Linked DNA regions of Homo sapiens: regions 1 and 3 are each linked to region 2. Evidence: fine-mapped expression QTL. A gene starts in region 2. Each other region holds a variant in brackets. All regions are shown on one strand. Distances are between the middles of the regions. Region 1 overlaps FOLR1-AS1 (FOLR1 antisense RNA 1). Region 2 holds the start of FOLR3 (folate receptor gamma). Region 3 holds the start of FOLR1-AS1 (FOLR1 antisense RNA 1).

The links. PIP is the estimated chance that this variant, and not a neighbour inherited with it, causes the effect.
Region 1: its variant is the best candidate, but not a certain one, in a credible set for the expression of FOLR3 in whole blood (TOPMed, PIP 0.83).
Region 3: its variant is the best candidate, but not a certain one, in a credible set for the expression of FOLR3 in whole blood (TOPMed, PIP 0.60).

The regions. Positions count from the first base shown.
Region 1 is chr11:72,165,884-72,173,639 of GRCh38, reverse strand. All of the region lies in intron 2 of FOLR1-AS1 (FOLR1 antisense RNA 1), which reads left to right. It also overlaps the pseudogene FOLR3P1. Among named protein-coding and RNA genes, the nearest start is that of FOLR1, 22 kb to the left of the region's middle. The variant C/T (reference allele first, on the strand shown) is at 3,597.
Region 2 is chr11:72,130,575-72,138,330 of GRCh38, reverse strand. It overlaps FOLR3 (folate receptor gamma), which reads right to left and starts at 2,606. Exons shown (of 5, transcript NM_000804.4): 1 at 2,563-2,606; 2 at 2,211-2,384. The coding sequence starts at 2,378. It also overlaps the pseudogene RPEP6.
Region 3 is chr11:72,208,411-72,216,166 of GRCh38, reverse strand. It overlaps FOLR1-AS1 (FOLR1 antisense RNA 1), which reads left to right and starts at 6,926. Exons shown (of 3, transcript NR_199595.1): 1 at 6,926-7,120. The variant G/A (reference allele first, on the strand shown) is at 4,198.

The DNA.
Region 1 (7,756 bases), 35 kb before region 2:
GTTAAAAATGGCTAAAATGGAGAACTTATTTTATTTATTTATTTTAAATTTTACCCTGATTTTAAAATAAGCAAATGGAATGTTGGGAATGACTCAGATGTCACAGGGCTTCCAGGCTGTCCTCTCTTTGCTTTAGCCCTCGGAGCCTGTCCATGCCACAGTCTCTCCCTGGGCACATCCTCACCCTCTGGGAATGTGAACCCTTCTAGGGAGCAGGCCAGGAGACCAGAGAAATGAAATACAGGCACTCTCCTGAGCTTGGAATTCAAATTGGAGCTCATACTCCCCGAGCTGCCTCAGTGGCCTTACCTGTGGCATGAGGGCCCTGGCCTCCCCTCCCCTTCCTTGTGGGCAGTGGCACCGCTGGCTCTGGCCACACTGGACCCGCCATTGCTCGTGCCATCACCCTCTGACCTGTGTGCATGCTGTCCTCTACCAGGCTGCCCTTTCCCGCTTTTTCCTCCTAGAAAACTCTTACTCATCTTCCCAGGTCAAGGCCAATGGTCTCTTGCCTGGGAAGTCTCCCCAGCATATTGGATTGGTCGTTGTCTCTTCAGTACCTAATGGGGGTGGAAACCTGGACTGTTTGTACATGTAGGCTGCACCATGACCATGATGGGCCCAGCTCCTCTTCTACTGTGCCATTGAGCTCTGTGGGCTGGCACACAATTAAGGCTGGGAAAGGTATGGACAGTCCCTCTCCTCATTTCCCACTTGCACCTGCGCCCTCTCTGGGCCTATTTCCTCATTTGCGTAAGTAGAGACTACCACGCACCCACCCTGCCCTTTGGGCATATTCACTAACATGGCATGAGTGAAAGCACAAGGCTCATAGGCTCATAGTGGGTGTTAGGTATGTGGTTCCTTTATTATTGTAGATTTGGTGTCCTCCCAGGGGAGGCCCTCCAGGATCACAGCAGTCATCCTCTGCCTTCATCACCTTCCACAGCTGACTTCACCCTGCTAACTTTTCTCTGTCAAAGGCAGCTCTCTCCCCTGCCCCAGACCCGACTTTATCCTCACCTGGCCATACAGCTCGTCCTCGGGGCTGGGCTGTGTCTTGTGGTACTTGGCGTTCATGCAGACATTGAGCAGGTCTGTCCTGGCCCGCGCACTCCTGGGCTGGGCACTCCCCGCAGCAGTCACCAAAGCCAGAAGGAGCAGCTGCATCATCTGCCAGGCCATGTCCATCTATTCCTGCCAGAGAGCCACAGTCAGAGGTAGACAAGGCCTGAGGGAGGGGCAACAGCCATGTGATTGTGTACTGTCTCCCTCCCAGGCCCAGATCTCTGCTGTCCCCACCCTGCATCCCCTACAGGGCAGCTGAGCCAAGAAATGCGCTGCGTGTAGAGGTGAGAGGGAGCCCTTCCCCGGCTGGCCTGGAGGCAGGACTCTCCTCCTACTTCCCACCCAACAGTGCTCTAGGTCCAGGTTCTGACACCAGCTTGCTCTGAGATCATGGAGGGAGCCACCGCCCTTGTGGACTTCCCCTCTTGGATTTCTCCAGTGTTTTATGCAATTCCTCTCAAATTTGCACAAGGAGGAACCACAGGTGGTGGCCTGCTGATGCAGGAGTGAGACTCTAGACAGCCTCAGGCTTCTGCTTCCTCAGCCTGTCCTCCTACCCCACGGCAACTGAGGTTTAGATGCCCAGGGAAGCTGAGATGGGGACAGCAAGGGCCATGGAGCTGTCAGCTATTGTTCATGGTCCTGGAGCAGATGCTGCGGGAGGCAAGGAGGTGGGGGCAATCGCACCTCACCCTTCACCCCTCCTGGGTCTTGGGAAATTACCTAGGCAGAGGCAGGCTCAGAGGTTGGGGGAGGCCAACAGGTCAGCGGCAAATGGAGGAGGGGGCTGAGCGAGAACAGTGAGCGCTATCTCGCCTCCCATGTCTCATCCCCACTTTTCCCTCTGTCCTGTTGCAGGGCCTTACCTCCATCCTCAGCCCACCTGGGAGGGTGGAGTCTCTCCCACCTCCCCACCTACTTTATAACCCCATCCTGCCTGCTTGGTTAGACCCTCTGTTCGGGAAGGTGCACAAGGCTTTGTCTAGGAGACAGCTCAATTGTCTTTCAATAAGGACCCAGTTAAATTATGGTACATCTACCCAGTGGAATTTAATGTGGTAACAAAGAAAGAGGAAGCTCCTGATGTACAAATACGGAAAAATCTCCATGTGCATTGTGAAGTGGGAGAAGGAAGGTGCAGAAGAATGCTATGTAAAAAAAAATTCTGTGTAAAAAAGGAGGAGTTAGAATATCTGTGCTTGCAGGAGAAAATGCTGAAAGGTATGAAAAGAAACCAATAAGGTGATCACCTGGGGGAAGAGGACAGCATCAGGGATGCGACCTTTCACTGTAAACCTTTCTACGTTGTTTTGATTTTTGGACCAGGTGAAGTTATACCTTATTTAAATATGTATTGGTATGTGTGTATGTATACATAAATATACAAAATAGGAAGTGAAAATACAAAGACACAGAATGATTTATCTGACTTGATAATAGATATGTAAATGTCAATAACACTAGAATGCACACAACAATGGTACATTTAAGTTAAGGATACTATACATGTGTTTGCCAAAGTATGAACATGAGGCCACTGAGTGTTCTGGTCTCTGGGTATACATCTGGTCAAATTCTATGCATTTACACTACACATATCCCATTTATGGGCACAAATGGTAGCATACTGTTTTATACTTTGCTTTTTCTGGGTAGTTTCAGTATACATTTATGCTTTTGACAAAAACCAAAAACCTCATGAACCCAAGCTATCCACACTTGCTCTCTTGAGTATTGCCGTATGTATTAGTCCATTTTCAGGAATGATAAAGACATACCCGAGATAGAGCAATTTACAAAAGAAAGAGGTTCATTGGACTTACAGTTCCACATGGCTGGGGAGACCTCACAATAATGGCAGAAGGCAAGGAGGAGCAAGTCACATCTTATGTGGATGACAGCAGGCAAAGAGAGAGCTTGTGCAGAGAAACTCCTGTTTTAAAAACCATCAGATCTCGTGAGACCCATTCACTCTCACAAGAACATGGGAAAGACCCACCCCCATGATTCAATCATCTCCCACCAGGTCCCTCCCACAACATGAGTGAATTATGGGAGCTACAAGATGAGATTTGGGTGGGGACACAGCCAAGCCATATCATTCCATCCCTGTCCCCTCCCAAATCTCATATCTTCACATTTCAAAACCAATCATGCCTTCCCAACAGTCCCCCAAAGTCTCAACTCATTTCAGAATTAACTCAAAAGTCCACAGTCCAAAGTCTCAGCAAAGAAAAAGCAAGACACTTCTGCCTATCAGCCTGTAAAATCAAAAGCAAGTTAGTTACTTCCTGGATACAATGGGAGTACAGGTATTGGGTAAATACAGCCACTCCAAAATGGGAGAAATTAGCCAAAACAGAGGGGCTACAGGCCCCTGCAAGTCCAAAATCCAGCAGGGCAGTCAAATCTTAAAGCTCCAAAATGATCTCCTTTGACTCCATCTCTCATATCAGGTCACACTAATGTAAGAGGTGGGTTCCCATGGTCTCTGGCAGCTCCGCCCCTGTGGCTTTTCAGTGTACAGC[C/T]TCCCTCCCGGCTGCTTTCACAGGCTGGCATTGAGTGTCTGCAGCTTTTCCAGGCAAACAGTGCAAGCTGTCAGTGGATCTACCATTCTTGGGGCTAGAGGACAATGGCCCTCTTCTCACAGCTGCCCTAGGCAGTGCCCCAGTAAGGACTCTGTGTGGGAGCTCCAACCCCACATTTCCCTTCCGCCCTGCCCTAGCAGAGGTTCTCCATGAGCACCCCACCCCTGCAGCAAACTTCTGCCTGGGCATCCAGGCATTTCCATACATCTTCTGAAATCTAGGTGGAGGTTCCCAAACCCCAATTCTTGACTTCTGTGCACTTGCAAGCTCAATACCACGTGGAAGCTGCCAAGGACTGGGGCTTTCACCCTCTGCAGCCATGGCCTAAGCTCTATGTTGGCCCCTTTCAGCCATGGCTGGAGCAGCTGGGACACAAGGCACCAAGTCCCTAGGCTACATACAGCACGGGGACCCTGGACCTGGCCCACGGAACCATTTCTCCTAGGCCTCTGGGCCTGTGATGGGAGGGGCTGCCAAGAAGACCTCTGACATGCCCTGGAGACATTTTCCCCATTGTATTGGGGGTTAATGTTCCTCTTGTTACTTATGCACATTTCTGCAGCTGGCTTGAATTTCTCCTCAGAAAATTGGCTTTTCTTTTCTATCGCATTGTCAGGCTGCAAATTTTCTGAACCTTTATTCTCTGCTTCCCTTATAAAACTGAATTCCTTTAACCACACCCAAGTCACCTCTTGAATGCTTTGCAGCTTAGAAATTTCTTCCGCAGCCAGGTGTGGTGGCTCATGCCTGTAATTCCAACACTTCAGGAGGCTGAGTTGGATCATTTGAGGTCAGGAGTTTGAGACCAGCCTGGCCAATGTGGTGAATCCCTGTCTCTTCTAAAATACAAAAATTAGCCAGGCATGGAGGCACATGCCTGTTATCTCAGCTGCTTGGGAGGCCGAGACATGAGAAACGCTTGAACTCAGGAGGCGAAGGTTGCAGTGAGCCAAGGTCACGCTACTGTCCTCTGGCCTGGGTGACAGAGTGAGACTCTATCTCAAAATAATAATAATAATAATAATAATAATAATAATAATAAACAAATTTCTTCCACCAGATAGCCTAAACCATCTCTCTCGAGTTCAAAGTTCTGCAAATCTCTAGGGCAGGGACAAAATGCTGCCAGTCTCTTTGCTAAAACATACAAGAGTTACCTTTGCTCCAGTTCCCAACAAGTTCCTCATCTTCATCTGAGACCACCTCAGCCTGGACCTTATTGTCCATATCACTATCAGGCTTTTGGTCAAGGCCCTTCAACAAGTCTCTAGGAAGCTCCAGACTTTCCCACATTTTCCTGTCTTCATCTGAGCGCTCCAAACTGTTCCAACCTCTGCCTGTTCCCCAGTTCCAAAGTCGCTTCCACATTTTTGGGTATCTTTTCAGCAATGCCCCACTCCCAGTACAAATTTACTGTATTCATCTGTTTTCACGCTGCTGATAAAGACATATGCAAGACTGGGCAATTTACGAAAGAGGTTTATTGGATTTACAGTTCCACATGGCTGGGGAGACCTTACAATCATGGTGGAAGGCAAGGAGAAGCAAGTCACATCTTATGTGGATGGCACCAGGCAAAGAGAGAGCTTGTGCAGAGAAACTCCCGTTTTTAAAACCATCAGATCTTGTGAGACCCATTCATTATCATGAGAACAGCACGGGAAAGACCCACCTCCACGATTCAATCATCTCCCACCAGGTCCCTTTCACAACACATGGGAGTTATGGGAGCTACAAGATGAGACTTGGGTGGGGACACAGAGCTAAATCATATCACTGTACATCTAATAACATAACTTTAAAGTTATTTCTTTATGCCTTGTATGTATAAACTTAAAGCTCATTAGCCAATATAAAAAACATTAGGGGGCCGTCCTTGGTGGCTCATGCCTATAATCCCAGTGCTTTGGGAGGCCAAGGCTGATGGATTGCTTGAGCCCAGGAGATCAAGACCAGCCTGGGAAACATAGGGAGACCTCATCTTCACACAAAAATACAAAAATTAGTTGGGTATGGTGGTCTAAGCCTATAGTCCCAGCCATTTGGGAGGATGAGCTGGGAGGATTGCTTGAGCCCAGGAGGTCAGGGCTGCAGTGAGCTGTGATGGCATCCCTGCACTCCAGCCTGGGTGACAGAGTGAGATCCTGTCTCGGAAAAAAAAAAAAAAAAGAAAGAAAGAAAAAAGTTAGGAAAGAGAACTTCATGTTTTCAAGTTAAAAGTGCCTGATCCGGCTGGGTGCAGTGGCTCACACCTTTAATCCCAGCACTTTGGAAGGCCAAGTCAGGGGTATCACCTGAGGTCAGGAGTTCAAAACCAACCTGGTCAACATGGTAAAACCCCATCTCTACTAAAAAAAAAAAAATACAAAAATTAGCCGGGCATGGTGGCACATACCTGTAATCCCAGCTACTCAGGATGTTGGGGCAGGAGAATCGCTTGAATCCAGGAGGTGGAGGTTGCAGTGAGCCAAGATCTCACCACTGCATTCCAGCTTGGGCAACAGAGCAAGATCCTGTCTCAAAAAAAAATAAAGTTGGTTTGTAATAAGCTATAGGACTCTGACAGGTGCTCTCAAATACAGGTTTCTGATAACTTTGGAGACTGTGATATTGGAATAAAGGAAAATGTACAGGACTCATGAAGAGCTAAAATGTTCACGAATATCAAGCATAACAAGAACTGAATGGACTGAACTCAGAAAGCTGAAGCAACCTTTTTGACTTTTGCTTGGAATATTGCTGATCCTTGTTTTGTTTCTCAGAGTCAAGGAAAATTATTTTGAACTCTTTAAGGCCTTTAATACTAGAGTAAGCTACACTCCTGTGAACAAAATTTGAAGCATATTTTTCTCTCTCTCTGCCTGGCTTCTCCAGAATTTGGAAATTATCCGTGAGTATTCTTTTTTTTTTTTTTTTGAGGCAGACTCTTGCTCTGTCGCCAAGCTGGAGTGCAGTGGCATGATCTCGGCTCACTGCAACCTCCGCCTCCCAGGTTCAAGTGATTCTCCTGCCTCAGTTTCCCAAATAGCTGGGACTACAGGCACTTGCCACCACACCCAGCTAATTTTTTGTATTTTAAGTAGAGACAGGGTTTCACCATGTTGGCCAGGCTGGTCTCGAACTCCTGACCTCCGGTGATCCGCCCACCTCGGCCTCCCAAGGTGCTAGGATTACAGGTGTGAGCCACCACGCCTGGCCAAGAATGTCACTTTCTAACAGGTCTAGGAGCTCCAAATTTGTCATGGGACCTTAACACGAGAAGATCATCCAACTTACAGGTATTTGAGGATACAAATCCATGGCTGGGCTCAGTTTTAAAACGTTTTGTCTGAAATTCCTTGAAGAACAGAGTTCCATCAAAGCCAATCTAAAAGACTTATGTAGAAATAGTTATTCTTGCTGCACTTTATGCAAATAATCAGGCCAAGTATATGACTAAAGTCTATTTTGCAAACAACTCAATCCTACCATAATTTGCTTTTTTAACAAAAATGAGGACTGGAGAGAGAGAAATTATGTTTCAAAACACCATACATTTGTCAATAAATTCTAAAGTCATTAGTGTTTAAGTTTTTGCCTACATTTTTAGGCTAACACTCCTTGTTCCTGTGAACCAACCAGCAATCTCCAGCTGCAGCTCAGAAAGAAGGAGAGGATGGGTAATGTAAAAATCTGGATCAATATTTTAGTTCTGAGCAATTATCCTGCAAATCCTGCCAGGTGATGGGAATAAATAGGATGCCCATTAATCGGAGGTTTCCTTTTTTGGAAAGTAAGAGCTAACCAAAGCCAAGCACCATGCACCCAAATCCTAGCTTACATAACTATAGCCACCAATTATCTGGGCATGTCACAAGACATCTTTTTCTCTCCCTTGTTGGAGGAGGACTCAATTCTGCAGCTTCACCTTCCTTAGCATTTGGCTTATGATAAGGAGTCCATGCAGCCCTTCCTAGACACATATTTTTGTTTCAAATTCTATTCCAAGCTTTGAGTCAAAGCCCCAGGAAAGAAAACTGGATCTAAGGGATTCAGAGGCAGATGATAACAGGGGTTAAAAGGCACAGTGCAAGGCCGGGCACAGTGGCTCACACCTGTAA
Region 2 (7,756 bases):
GCAGTGGCGTGATCTTGGCTCACTGCAACCTCCACCTCCCGGGTTCAAGCAATTCTCCTGCCTCAGCCTCCCAAGTAGCTGGGATTACAGGCACGTGCCACCATGCCCAGCTAATTTTGTATTTTTAGTAGAGACGGGGGTTCACCATGTTTGCCAGGCTGGTCTCGAACTCCTGACCTCAGGTGATCCACCCTCCTTGGCCTCCCAAAGTGTTGGGATTACAGGCGTGAGTCACCGCGTTCGGCCTATTTCATGTTATTCAGCTTATTTATATTATTCATTTTGCATCCAGCCAATATTAACTGAGTGCTGATTATACATCAGGCACTGTGCTAGGTCCTAGGAACACCACAGTGAAGAAAACAAATAACACCTCTACCCTCAGGGAGGGTATGGTTTTAGTGGGTGGGTGGGCTGTGTGTAGAAGGGAGACAAAGAACACTCTAGGCATAGAAAACCATAGGTGCAAAGTCCCTGAGGCTTTTGCGCTTTATCCTCTCAACAACCCAGTACGAATCCTTACCCCCATTTTTACAGAGTTTAAGTAAGCTACACCCATGGTAAACAGTGAGGTTAAGATTTAAGGAGGCGGGCGGATCACCTGAGGTTAGAAGTTCGAGACCAGCCTGACCAACACAGAGAAACCCTGTCTCTACTAAAAATACCAAAAAATTAGCCAGGCACAGTGGTAGGCGCCTGTAATCCCAGCTACTCAGGAGGCAGAGGCAGGAGAATCACTTGAACCCAGGAGGCAGAGGTTGCAGTGAGCCAAGATCATGCCATTGCATTCCAGCCTGGGCAACAAGAGCGAAACTCTGCCTCAAATTAAAAAAAAAAAAAATTATAACTGAGGACAGGGAGGAGAGGAACCTGGCCCAGGTTGTGGGGGAGGGTGGAGGTCAAGGGGCTGGTCTGGCTCTCCCAGGGTCTGGAGGTCCAGGTGGGGAGACTCTAGATAGATCCTGAGAGTGGTGGAGAACGAAGGAGCTATAGCCTGCACGTGGGTCTGAACCTAGACTTGACTAAATGTGGAAAAGGCAATCCTAGAAAGGTAAATACAAGGCAGGTAAGACAAGCAGAAATGGTGGAGTTTTTTCTTGGGAAGTCACTCTAGGCCAGGACTCAGAAAACCTGAGAAATCATGAATCAATTGCATAAAATTTCTGGGCTGAACCCTTGCACCTAGGGTCAAGTGATGGCAGAGGCGTGACAGGCCTGAGCACCCAGGAGAAACAATAGGGAAATCCATGGGAGGGGAGCCAGACCTACCCACCTCCCACACCCTGGCCCACGCCCAGTGCCGGCTGACACAGAACATGCTTCCCTGCCAGCCCGACTTCACACTTGCTTTTCCTTGGATGTTCCAACTCTTGGTCTTCCTGCAAGACCCCTTGCACATCATGGGTCTTAGGGTTTGGCAGACATGGGTCCTGCCTGTCAGGGTCAAGGGTTGTTGCCTCCAAAAGAGTTACTGAGTACAATGAGAAGAACTCCCTTGCTATAGTAAGGGCTCAACAAATATCATCACTCTCATATAGCTCATGGCCCTGAGAATGATAGTCATCTGTCTCTCTCAAAGGTCTACATCCACACCATTTCCTGGCAAGGAGGATGTGCTCTAGAAGGTTCTGAAAAGCAAATGAAGTGGTGGGCACAGAGTTTCCATTTCAGTTTTGGAGAATGAAAGAGGTCAGGAGATGGATGGTGGTGATGGTTGCACAACCACATGAGCATACCTAATGCCACTGAACCGTACAGTTAAAAATGGCTAAAGTGGAAAATGTATGTTATGTATTTGTTTTTTTTTTTTAACCCCGATTTAAAAATAAGCAAATGGAATGTTGGGAGTGACTCAGATGTCATGGGGCTTCCAGGCTGTCCTGTCTTCGCTTTAACCCACAGATTGTGTCCACGCCACAGTCTCTCCCTAGGCACATCCCCAGCCCTCTGGGAATGTGAAACCTTGTAGGGAGCAGGCCAGGAGACCAGAGGAATGAAATACAAGCACACTCCTGAGCCTGGAGTTCAAATTGGAGCTCATATTCCCCAAGCTGCCTCAGTGGCCTTACCTGTGGCATGGTGGCCCTGGCCGCCCCTCCCCTTCCTTGTCAGCAGCGGCACCCTTGGTTCTGACCACACTGGACCTGCCATTGCTCGTGCCATCACCCTCTGACCTGTGTGCATGCTGTCCTACACCAGGCTGCCCTCACCTGGCCATACAGCTCGTCCTCGGGGCTGGGCTGTGTCTTGTGGTGCTTGGCGTTCATGCAGACATTGAGCAGGTCCGTCCTGGCCCGCGCACTCCTGGGCTGGGCACTCCCCGCAGCAGTCACCAAAGCCAGAAGCAGCAGCTGCATCATCTGCCAGGCCATGTCCATCTATTCCTGCCAGAGAGCCACAGTCAGAGGTAGACAAGGCCTGAGACAGGGGCAACAGCCATGTGATTGTGTACTCTCTCCCTCCCAGGCCCAGATCTCTGCTGTCCCCACCCTGCATCCCCTACAGGGCAGCTGAGCCAAGAAATGCGCTGCGTGTAGAGGTGAGAGGGAGCCCTTCCCCTACCTGGAGGCAGGACCTCCACCAACAGCGCTGTAGGTCCAGGCTCTGACACCAGCTTGCTCTGTGACCTTGTAGGGAGCCACCGCCCTTGTGGACTTCCCCTCTTGGATTTCTCCAGTGTTTTATGCAATTCTTTTCAAATTTGCACAAGGAGGAACCACAGGTGGTGGCCTGCTGATGCAGGAGTGAGACTCTAGACAGCCTCAGGCTTCTGCTTCCTCAGCCTGTCCTCCTACCCCATGGCAGCTGAGGTTTAGATGCCCAGGGAAGCTGAGATGGGGACAGCAAGGGCCATGGAGCTGTCAGCTATTGTTCATGGTCCCGGAGCAGATGCTGCGGGAGGCAAGGAGGTGGGGGCAATCACACCTCACCCTTCACCCCTTCTGGGTCTTGGGAAATTACCTAGGCAGAGGCAGGCTCAGAGGTTGGGGGAGGCCAACAGGTCAGCGGCAAACGGAGGAGGGGGCTGAGCGAGAACAGTGGGCGCTATCTCGCCTCCCACCTCTCATCCCCACTTTTCCCTCTGTCCTGTTGCAGGGCCTTACCTCCATTCTCAGCCCACCTGGGAAGGTGGAGTCTCTCCCACCTCCCCACCTACTTTATAACCCCATCCTGCCTGCTTGGTTAGACCCTCTGTTCGGGAAGGTGCACAAGGCTTTGTCTAGGAGACAGCTCAATTGTCTTTCAATAAGGACCCAGTTAAATTATGGTACATCTACCCAGTGGAATTTAATGTGGTAACAAAGAAAGAGAAAGCTCCTGATGTACAAATATGGAAAAATCTTCAAGTGCATTGTTAAGTGGAAAAAGAAAGGTGCAGAAAAATGCTATGTAAAAAATAATAATAATAAATTCTCTGTAAAAAAGGAGTAAGAATGTCTGTGTTGACTGGGCGTGGTGGCTCACGCCTGTAATCCCAGCACTGTGGGAGGCCGAGGCAGGCGGATCACTTGAGGTCAGGAGTTCGACATCAGCCTGGTCAATATGATAAAACCCCATCTGTACTAAAAATACAAAAATTAGCTGGGTGTGGTGGCACATGCCTGTAATCCCAGCTACTCAGGAGGCTGAGACAGGAGAATCACTTGAACCCGGGAGGAGTTTGCAGTGAGCCAAGATCACGCCACTGCACTCCAGCCTGGATAACAGAACGTGACTCTGTCATTAAAAAAGAAAAGAATATCTGTGTTTGCAGGTGAAAATTCTGTGGCAAGGTATGAAAAGAAATTAATAACATGGTCACCTGGCAGTAGAGAACAGGATTAGGCTTGAGACTTTTCTCTGTAAACCTTTCCACATTGTTTTGATTTTTGGACCATGTGACTATAAATCTTATTTAAATACATATAGGTATGTGTGTATACATACATAAATATACCAAATATGAAGTGAAAATACTAAGACACAGAATGACCTCTCTGACTTGATAATATGTATGTAAATTTTGATAACACTAGAATGTATACAACAGTACCTTTAAGTTAAGGATACTACACATGTGCTTGCAAAAGTATGAACATGAAGCCACCAAGAGTTCTGGTCCCTGGACATACATCCAGTAAATTCGATGCAGTTACACCATATATATCCCATTTCTGTGCACAAATGGTAGCATACTGTTCTGTACTTTGCTTTTTTGGGTAGTTTCACTATAAATTTATTCTTTTGACAAAAAAACAAAAACCTCATGAACTCAAGTTATCCACAGTTGCACACTTGAGTATTACTGTACATCTGATAACATAACTAAAATTATTTCTTTATGCCTCGTAGGGTCTAAACTTAAAACTATTTCATTAGCCGATATAAAAAAGTTAGTGGGCTGGGTGTGGTGGCTTACACCTGTAATCCCAGCGTTTTGGGAGGTTGAGGTGGATGGATCACTTGATCCCAGGAGTTTGAGACCACTTGGGCAACATAGGAAAACTTCATCTGCACACAAAAATAGAAAAATTAGCCACGTATGGTGGTGCGAGCTTGTAGTTTCAGCCATTTGGGAGGGTGAGCTGGGAGGATTGCTTGAGCCCTGGAGGTCGAGGCTGCAGTGAGCTGTGATGGCACCACTGTACTGTCAGAGTGAGACCCTGTCTCAGCAAAAAAAGAAGAAGGAAAAGGAGAAGGAGAAGAAGAAGAAAGAAGAAGAAGAAGAAGAAGAGGAAGAAGAAGAAGAAGAAGAAGAAGAAGAAGAAGAAGAAGAAGAAGAAGGAGAAGAAGAAGAAGAAGAAATAAGGAAACAAAGAAAGTTAGGAAAGAGAACTTCATGTTTTCAAGTTAAAAGTGCCTAATGCTTGGTTTGTATTTCTCCAACACTCTTGGAGGCAGTAGAACTGCTACTAACCTGGGAAGACGACCGGCACTGCCCCTGTGTATTGCTTATGTAGTGTGAAGTGATGTTTTCCCATTATGATGTTGGGAACATTTCCAATACTGTCATCATTTACTCAGCTAGTAGAGAGCCTCTCCTGAGGCAGAGCCTGTGTTTTCAGTCTGACCTCAGTATCTGGTCCTGCTACAGGTGAGTCTGAGGTGACAAGACCAGTGTCTAGTTATGAAGCCCTTGCCTCCCCAGGGCTCCATTATGGATGAGTCCTGCACCATAGTCAGCAGCCCTCTGCCCTCCCTCCATTGCACCCACCTATGACTCTTCTCTTCTTTTCAATGCCCTCCCCCAACAACCTCTGCCTGTGACTTTGAATGTGTTGTGGGGGTCTTTGCAGAAGAATCGCCCACCTGAGTTTTGGCCAAATTCCTGACTCACAACATCTTGGAATATAATAAAATAGTTACTATTTCAAGCAACTATGTGTATTTGATTTTTAAACTTTTTGTTTTGAAATAATTTTAGATTTGCAGAAAAACTGCAAAACATCGTCAAAAGATTTCCCGTATGTTTTTATGCAACTTCCCCAAATATTGGCATCTTATGTAACCAAAGCCCAGTTCTTAAAAAAATCAGGAAATTAATATTGAGGCAATACTGTTAACTAATCTACAAGCTTTATGCCCTTTACACCAGTTTCCCCCCCAATGTCCTTTCTCTGGCCCAGGATTCAGTCCATGATTCCAGGTTGCATGTAGTTGTCATGTCCCCTTAGTCTCCCTCCAATCTGTGACAGTTCCTCAATGTCTTTGTCTTTTATGACCTTGACACTTTTGGAGAATTACTGTTCAGTTATTTTGCAGAATGTCCCTCAATTTGGGTTTGTCTATATTTTCCTGTAATTAGCTTGAGCTTATGCATTTTGGCAAGAAAATTAGAGAAGAGAGGTGCTTTTGTCAGTGCATCATATCAAGAGGTACATGATGAGGGTTGCTGCATCTTATTGCTGGTGATTATTGGGTTAAGGAGATTTCCTTACTATATAATTATTAGTTTCCCTTTGTTAGTAATCCTACCTTGTAGGGAGACACTCTGAGACTATGTGAATATCCTTTTCATCCACTTAGTTTAACATTGTCTGCAGCAATACACCACAAAATTATGGAATGATTTGTTATGCAGCAACAGACAACTAGTAAACCCATGAGAGTTAGTATTGTGTTTCTTAAACTCTGAGGAAACAATTTGGCTTATAACCTTAGTTTAGCCACACAGCAGTTACTCTTTCTACAACAAAATTCCCAGGAAAAACAGAGTACTTATCATATTAATCTTTAAATTAAATCACTTATAAAAGTGAGTAGTTATAATAGTCAAACTTACTTTACCCTCTGTGAACATTCTGCATGATGGATTTGAGACAGTGGACTGAATAATTGCTCAGGAAATCAGCACTACCTCAGTTACTTTCTGATGGGTCCTCATAGTACAATAAACAGGAGATTTCATAGACAGAAATACGGGCTCTTCAAGGCTTCTTCAATCATGAGAATGTTTCTGAGAAGCTTCTGAGCAAATACTTCTATGGAAGCTGATCACAGATCTGAGGTCTTTGCACTTCATAATTATTCTGTCAATCACAGTCATATTAATTCCTCCTCTGCACATGTATCAATAGCATTACGCCCACAGGGTCCAAAAAGAAAGAGGTATGTCCTCAACCAACGAATTTCTGATATTACAGGCTTCATAAAATTCATGCCCTCCAATCCCAGGCTCCACTATCGTGGCCAAGGCCAGGTCTGGCTGAGTTGCCAATGGTGCTAAAGACTCTACTAAAGATTCAGGTGAATGCCAAGGCCAGCCTTCATCCAAGTGACCAGAATATCTTTAATGAATGTCTGGTTTTCAGTAGCCTCTAGATAAAAGGCACACTGATTTGCTACACCTACAACTATAGCCGTTGCCTTTTTGCTCGTTGTTTTGACCTGAAACTTAATCATGGGCGTGGCCTCTCTTTAAGGCTTTCTATCTCAGGTACCAAAGATGATGGCAAGAACAAAGTGTCTGTCCACTACATCAAAGATCAGATGGTTATCCGAGTCCAGCATCTAGGTGCACTGAGCCCCAGGGAGTCCAGGCAACTGTTGAGGGTAGATGGGCCAATCTTTATTTTACCTTATTTTTTATTTTTAGGAGACAGGGTCTCACTCTGTCACCCCAGCTGGAGTGCAGTGGCACCATCATGGCTCACTGCAGCCTCAACCTCCCTGAGTATCTGGGACTACAGGCACGCACCACCACGCCCAGCTAATTTTTGTATTTTTGTAGAGAGGAGGTTTCGCCATGTTGCCCAGGCTGGTCTTCAACTCTTGGGCTCAAACAATCCTCCAACCTAGGCCTCCCAAAATACTGGGACTACAGGGGTGAGCCACCACGCCCGGCCAAGATGGGCCAATCATGAGTCTTGCCCAAATTCTTGGGCAAAATCTCACAAAATCTTGAAGTATAATTAAACTCACAAAATCTTGAAGTATAAGTAAATAAGTATTGTGTTTTTGTTTTGTTTTGTTTTGAGACAGAGTCTTGCTCTGTCCCCCAGGCTGGAGTGCAGTGGTGTGATCTCAGCTCACTGCAGCCTCTGCCTTCCGGTTCCAGTGATTCTCCTGCCTCATCCTCCCAGGTAGCTGGGATTATAGGCACATGCCACTATGCCAGGCTAATTTCTGTAGTTTCAGTAGAGGTGGGGATTCACCATGTTGGCCAGGCTGGTCTCGAACTCCCGACCTCAGGTTATCGGCCCACTTCAGCCTCCCAAATTGCTAGGATTACAGGCATGAGCCACTGCGCCCAGCCTAATTGGTATTGTTTTAAGAC
Region 3 (7,756 bases), 78 kb before region 2:
TACAAAAATTAGTGGGGTGTGGTGCCGTGCGTGCACTGTAATCCCAGCTACTTGGGAGGCTGAGGCACAAGAATTGTTTGAACCCGAGAGGCAGAGGTTGCAGTGAGCTGAGATCGCACCACTACACTCCAGCCTGGGCGACAGAGCGAGACTTCATCTCAAAAAAAAAAAAAAAAAAAAAAAAAAGTTGAGGTATAGAAGTCAAGGGTCACAGAAAAATTAAAATTGTCTCAAATATGTTAAACAGCAATATATTACCATCTGGCATTTCTGAAAACATAATTAAGCAATTTTTGATGGCCTTTTAAAAATTGTGGTAAAAACACACGTGACATACAATGTGCCATCTTAACCATTTCTAACGGTACAGTTCAGCAGTGTCAAATATAGTCATACTGTTTGCAATCAATCTTGGAAACTTTTCATCCTGCAAAACTGAGACTCCATATCCATTAAACGATTCCCCACTTTCACTTTCCCTAGCCCCCGCCAACCACCATTCTATTTTCCGTCTCTGTGATTTGGGCTACTGTACTGTAAGTTCCTTGTCCAAGTGGAATCATGCAATATTTGTCTTTTCGTGACTGGCTTTTCGTAATGTCCCCAAGATTTGTCCATGTTGTAAGGTGTATCCGAATTTCATTCCTTTTTAAGGCTGGGTAATATTTCATTGTATGTATGTACCACATTTTCTTTATTTATTCATCTATCAATGGACCTTTGGGTTGCTTCCACTTTTGGCTATCATGAAGAATACTGCTATGAAAATGGGCATATAAATATGTCTTTAAGACCTTTCTTTCAATTCTTTTTGGTATATATCCAGAAGTGAAATTGCAGGATTATATGGTAAGTCTATATTTAATTTTTGAAGAACTGCCACACTGTTTTCTGTAGTGGCCACACCATTTTACATTTCCATCAGCAGTGCACAAAGGTTCCAATTTCTCCACATCCTCATCAACACTTATTTCCTGTTTTGGGAGTTTTGGGTTTATAGTAGCCATCATGTTGAGTGTGAGGCGATATCTCATTGTGACTTTGATGTACATTTCTCTAATAATTAGTGATAATGAGCATCTTTTTCCATGCTTATTAGCCATTTGTATATCTTCTTTGGAGAAATGTCTATTCAAGTCATTTGCCTATTTTTAAAATTGAGTTTTCTTTTTGTTGAGTTGTAGTATTCTTTTATGTATTCTGAATTCACCCTTTATCAGGTATATGATTTGCAAATATTTTCTCCCATTCTGTATGTTGCCTGTTGATTGTCCTTTGATGGACAGAAGTTTTTAATTTTGATGTAGTCCAGTTACCTATTTTTACTTTTGTTTCCTGTGCTATTGGTCTCATATTCAATAACTCATTGCCTAATTCAATGTCATGAAACTCTTTGCCTAGGTTTTCTTCAAAGACTTTCATCATTTTTGCTTTTATGTTTATTTAGGTCATGGATCTATTTTGAGTTGTTTTTAATATTGTATAAAGATGTATTTATACAAGTGTATTACACCTGTGTAAAGCTGTAAGATAAAGGTCCAACTTTTTTTCGCATATGAATATCCAGTTGTGTCCCAGCACCATTTGTTGAAGACTATTCTTTTCCCCATGTTTTAATACCCTTGTCAAAAACCTGGACTCCCAGTTTGATTCCACTGATGTATATGTCTCTCCTTGTGCCACTACCATGCTGTCTTGATTATTGTAGATTTGTAGTAAGTTGTGAAAGTGAAAAGTGTTATTTCTCCAATTTTTTTCTTTTTCAAGATTGCTTTGGCTATTCTGGATCTCTTTCATGTCCATATGAATTTTAGAATCAGGTTGTCAATTTCTACAAAAAAGACAGCTGGGATTTTGACAGCTCTTGAGTTGAATCTGTAGATCAGTTTGGGAGAGTATTGCAATGTTAACAATATTAAGTATTCTGACTGATGAACACGAGATTTGTTTCTATGTATTTAGGTTTTTAATGTCTTTCAACAATGTTTTATAGTTACAAGTCTTTTACTTGTAACTTTTACTTTTGTTAAACTTATTCCTACATATTTTATTCTTTTTGATGCTATTATGAATGGAATCATATTCTTTTTTTTTTTTTTGAGACAGAGTCTCATGCTCTGTCCCCCAGGCTGGAGTGCAGTGGCATGATCTTGGCTCATTGCAACCTCCACCTCCCAGGTTCACGCCATTCTCCTGCCTCAGCCTCCCGAGTAGCTGGGACTACAGGCGCGCGCCACCACACCCAGCTAATTTTTTGTATTTTTAGTAGAGACGGCGTTTCACCGTGTTAGCCAGGATGGTCTCGATCTCCTGACCTCGTGATCTGCCTGCCTTGGCCTCCCAAAGTGCTGGGATTAGGAATCATATTCTTAAATTCATTTTCATATTTGTTCACTGCTAGTGTATAGAAATGCAATTGATTTTTGTATTTTGATCTGGTATCCTGAAACTTGTTGAACTCATTTAGTGGTAATGATATTGTTTTTATGGATTCCTTAGAATTTTCTGTATACAATATCATATCATCTATGAGTAAAAATAGTTTCACGTCTTGCTTTCCAATTTGGATACCTTTTATTTCTTTTTTCTTGAATAATAGCACTAACTACAACCTTCAGTACAATTTAAATAGACATGGTGAGAGTACATATCCTTTTCTTATTCCTGATCTTAGGTTGAAAGCCTTTCACCATTGAATATGATGTTATGTGTTTTTTCAGAGATGCTCTTCATTGGGTTTTGGGTTGAGTTCCCTTCTATTTCTAGTTTGTTCAGCATTTGTTTAATCATGAAAGGATATTGAATTTTGTCAAACAAGGTTTTCTTCACTAATTGAGATGATCATGTGGTTTTTGTCCTTTATTCTAATAATACGGTGAACATCAATTGATTTTTGGATGCTAAGCCAACTTCCATTCCTGGAATAAATCCTGCTTAGTAATAGTATATACTTTTGACCTGTTGCTGGATTCAGTTTGCTAATATTTGGTTAAGCAGATTTATGTCTTAATTCGTAAGGAATATTGATCTATGTTTTCTTTTCTTGTGATATCTTTGTCCGATTTTATAACAAGGTAATACTGGCTCATATAATACAACTTACAGAATGAGTTGAGAAATATTTCCTCCTTTTATTTTTTGAAAGAGTTTGTAAAGGATTGGTATGAATTGTTCTTTAAACATTTGAGCCAGGTGCGGTAGTTCATGGCTGTCCTCCCAGCACTTTGAGAGGCAGAGGTGGGAGGATCACTTGAGCTCAGGAGTTCGATACGAGCCTGGGAAACATAGTGAAATCTTGTCTCTACTAAGAATAAAAAAAATTAGCCAGGCATGGTGGCATGCACCTGTAATCCCAGTTACTTGGGAGGCTGAGGTGAGAGGATTGCTTGAGCCCAAGAGGTTGAGGCTGCAGGAAGCTGTGATCATGCCACTGCACTCCAGCCTGGGTGACAGAGCGAGACCTTGTCTGTAAAATAAGTAAATAAATAAATAACATTTTGTAGAAACCACCACTGAGGCCATCTGGGCCTGAAATTTTCTTTGTGGGAAATTTTAAAATTACTAACTCAACCTCTTTACTTGTCACAAGTCTATTTGTATTCTTTACTTCTTGTGTTATCTTTGGTAGTTTGTGACTTTATAGGAATTTGTTCGTTTTATCGGTGTTAACTAATATGTTGCATACAATTGTTTATACTATTCCCTTATAATCCTTTATATTTCTGTGAGGTCAGTACTGATCTTCCCTTTGTCATTCCTGATTTTATTGATTTGATTCTTCTCTCCTTTTTTCTTGATCAATCTAGATAAAGCTCATCAGTTTTGTTGATTTTTTAAAGAACTAACTTGATTTTGTTGATTTTTGGTGTTTTTCTATCCTCTATTCCATTTATTTTTGCTCTAATCTTTACTATTTCCTTCTTTTTCCTAGTTTATTTTGCTCATCTTTTTCTGTTTTGTTTTGTTTTGAGACAGGGTCTCACTCTGTCACCCAGGCTGGAGTGCAGTGGTGCCATCTCGGCTCACTGCAACCTCTGCCTCCCAGGCTCAAGTGATTCTCTTACCTCAGGCTCTTGAGTAGCTGGGACTACAGGCACACGCCACCACGCCTGGCTAATTTTTGTATTTTTTGTAGAGACGGTGTTTCGCCATGCTGCCCAGGCCGGTCTCGAACTCCTGAGCACAAGTGATCTGCCC[G/A]CCTCGGTCTCCCAAAGTGCTGAGATTATAGGCATGAGCCACTGCACCTGGCCCTTTCTCTGTTTTTTTTAAGGTAGTAGGTTAGCTTATTGATTTAAGTTATTCTTCTTTTTCATATTGACATTTACAAATCTAAATTTCTCTCCAAGCACTGCTTTAGCTACCTCCCTTAGGTTTTGGTATTTTGTGTTTTCATTTCATTCATCTTAAAGCATTTTCTAATTTCCCTTGTGATTTACGAGTATATTTAATTTATACATATTTGTAAATTTCCTGAATGTTCTTATCTTATTTTTTAATGTCATTCCATTGTGATCAGGGAAGATATTTTCTTCTATTTCAATTATTTTTAATTTATTGGTACCTTTTTTAATGGCCCAAAATATGGTGTTCCATGTGTACTTGAGAAGAGTATATATTCTGCTGTTGTTTGGCTGGAGTGTTCTGTAGATATCTGATGGGTCTAGTTGGTTGATAGTGTTGTTCAAGTTCTCTACTACCTAGTTTTTCTAAATACTACTGGTAGCGGGATATGGAAATCTCCAACTGTTATTGTTGAATAAAGTATTTCTCTCCTCAATTCTGTTATTTTTTGCTTCATGTGTTTTGGGACTCTGTTGATAGTTGCATTTATATTTATATTTGCTATGTCTTCTTGATGGATTGACCCTTTTATCATTTTTAAATGACTTCCTTTGTCTCTTAACAATTTTTGTCTTAAATTCCCTTGTCAATATCATTACATTACCTATACAGGTACAAACTACACCTGTGTAGTAGAGACAAGGTCTCACTATGTTGCCCAGGCTGGTCTCAAACTCCTGAGCTCAAGTGATCCTCCTGCCTCAGCTCTCTAAAGTAAAATAATTTGTATTCTTAACAAAGTACTGTAGCTTTACTTGTTTTTACTAGTTTTTCTTTCAACTTTTTTTTTTTTTTTTTGAGACGGAGTTTCCCTCTTGTGGCCCAAGCTTGTGTGCAGTGGTGCGATCTCGGCTCACTGCAACCTCCACCTCCTGGGTTCAAGCAATTCTCCTGCCTCAGCCTCCCAAGTAGCTGGGATCTTTCAACCTTTTTTACTAGAGATATAAAATTAATGTACCTACTGCCATTATAGCATTTAAATATTTTGAATTTGACAACATACTTTTTTTTGTGTGTGAGACAGAGTCTTGCTGTGTTGCCCAGGCTGGAGTGCAGTGGCATGATCTCAGCTCACTGCAACCTCCGCCTCCAGGGTTCAAGTGATTTTCCTGCCTCAGCCCTCCAAATAGCTGGGATTACAGGCATGTGCCCAGCTAATTTTTGTATTTTTAGTAGAAGCAGGGTTTCACCATGTTTGCCAGGCTGGTCTCAAACTCCTGACCTCAGGTGATCCACCTGCCTCGGCCTCCTAAAGTGCTGGGATTACAGGTGTGAGCCACCACATCGGGCCTGACAACGTACTTACTTTTACCAGTGAGTTTCACACTTTCATATATTTTCATGTTACTAATTAACATCCTCTTCTTTTGGCTTAAATAAGTCCCTTTAGCATTTCTCATAAGGCAGATCTAGTGGTGATACATTCTCTCAGCTTTTGTTAGTCTGAGGAAGTCTTTATCATTCTCCCTTTTTGGAAGACAGGGTTCCTTGGTATTGTACTTGGTTAAAATTTATTTTTCCTATAAGGATTTTGAATATATTATTCTACTTCTTTCTGGTTTGCAAGGTTTCTGCTGAAAACCCACTGATAATCTTATGGGTTTCCTTGCATGTAATGTTTCACTTTTCCCTTTCTGCTTTCAAAACTCTCTCTTTGTCTTTAACTTTTGACAGTTTGATTATGATGTGTCTCGGTGTGGGTCTCTTTGGATTAATCTTATTTGATGTCCTTTGGGCTTCGTGGATCTGGATTTCTATTTTTTTCCCCAGGTTTGGGGAGTTTTCTGCCATTATTTCTTTGAATATGTTTTCTAGCCCTTTCTCTTTGTTTTCTCCTTTTGATATACTGATAATGTCTATGTCGTTATGCTTCATGGTGTTCCATAAGTCTCTTAAATTATCCTCACTCTTTTTTTATTATTTTTTCCTTTTTAGTCCTCAGATTTTGTAATTTCCAGTAACCTGTCTTCAAATTCACTATTTTTTTTCCTACTTGATCTAGTTTACTATTGAACCCCTCTATTGAATTTTTAATTTCAGTTACAGTATTCTTCAGCTCTATTATTTCTATTCGGTACTTTTTAAATACTTCTTATCTCTTTATTGAAATTGTCAGTTTGTTCTTACATTGCTCCCCTGACCTCAGTAAGCATCTCCATGGTCATTATTTTGAATTCTCTGTCAGGTAAATCACATATCTCCACTTCACTCAGGTCAGTTTCTGGATATTCATCTTGTTCTTCTATTTAGAACATATTCCTCTATTTCTTCATTTTCCTTGACTCTCTGTGTTGGTTTCTGCACATTAGATAAAATAACTATCTGTATTAGTCCATTTTCACACTGCTATAAAGAACTTCCCAAGACTGGGTGACTTACAAAGGAAAGAGGTTTAATTGACTCAAAGGTCAGCATGGCTGGGTAGGCCTCAGGAAACTTAGAATCATGGCTGAAGGCTAAGGGGAAGCAAGGCACATTCTTCACAAGGCAGCTGGAAGGAGAAGTGCCGAGCAAAGGGGGAGGAGCCCCTTGCAAAACCATCAGATCTCCTGAGAACTCACTCACTATCACAAGAACAGCATGGGGGAAACTGCCCCCATGATTCAGTTACCTCCACCTCGCCTCTCCCTTGACTTGTGGGAATTACAAGGATTATACTTCAAGATGAGATTTGGCTGGGGACACAAAGCCTGAGCATATCACTATCGCTCTCAGTCTTGTCCGACTGGCCTCGTGTAGGAGAAGGCTCTCACCTATCTGTCTGACCAGAGATTTTAAGGTACCTCTCAAGTCTTTGTGTTTGTCCAGACCTCTATTCTGTTTTTGGTGCCCCCCTGGAGTTTATGTCATATCATTTCAGTATTCTGAGACCAGTAAAGCAGGAGCCAGACTCTGTAGGTGTAGCTGGAAATGTTGGAGTGTTGGGTGTGTGTTTCAGCTACTTCTATCTTTGTGGTAAACCTGAATACAGGTGTTTATCTCCCATTCTCTCTGCACTAAGCTGAGGAGAAAATCTGTGGCAAATGCCTTTACTAACATTCAGGTTGTGCCTTCTGATCCTGGGGAAATAGCTGTTGGAAGCGTGCCTATTATATGTTCACCTCTTCATTTTCTGTGGTCTCAGCCCACCCAGGAATGCAAAGCTCCATCAACTTCAAGAGCTAGGTCATTAAGGAGACAGATCCCAGGGTTGGAGCCATAGAAGTAGTGGCACTCAGTGCATGGCCAAGCTCCTTCCTGTAAGAATGAGTAGACCTGGATTTATTTATGGGGTGAGCCAGAGGAAAGTTTCATGAAGTTCCCTTGCTAAAGCTGTAATAGGGCTATTGTTTGTTTGCTCCATGATCTCCGTGGTGCAAGTTTGTTAGCTGTTAGGTCATCAAGTAGCCACTGGAAGTGTACTATAAGCCCCTTC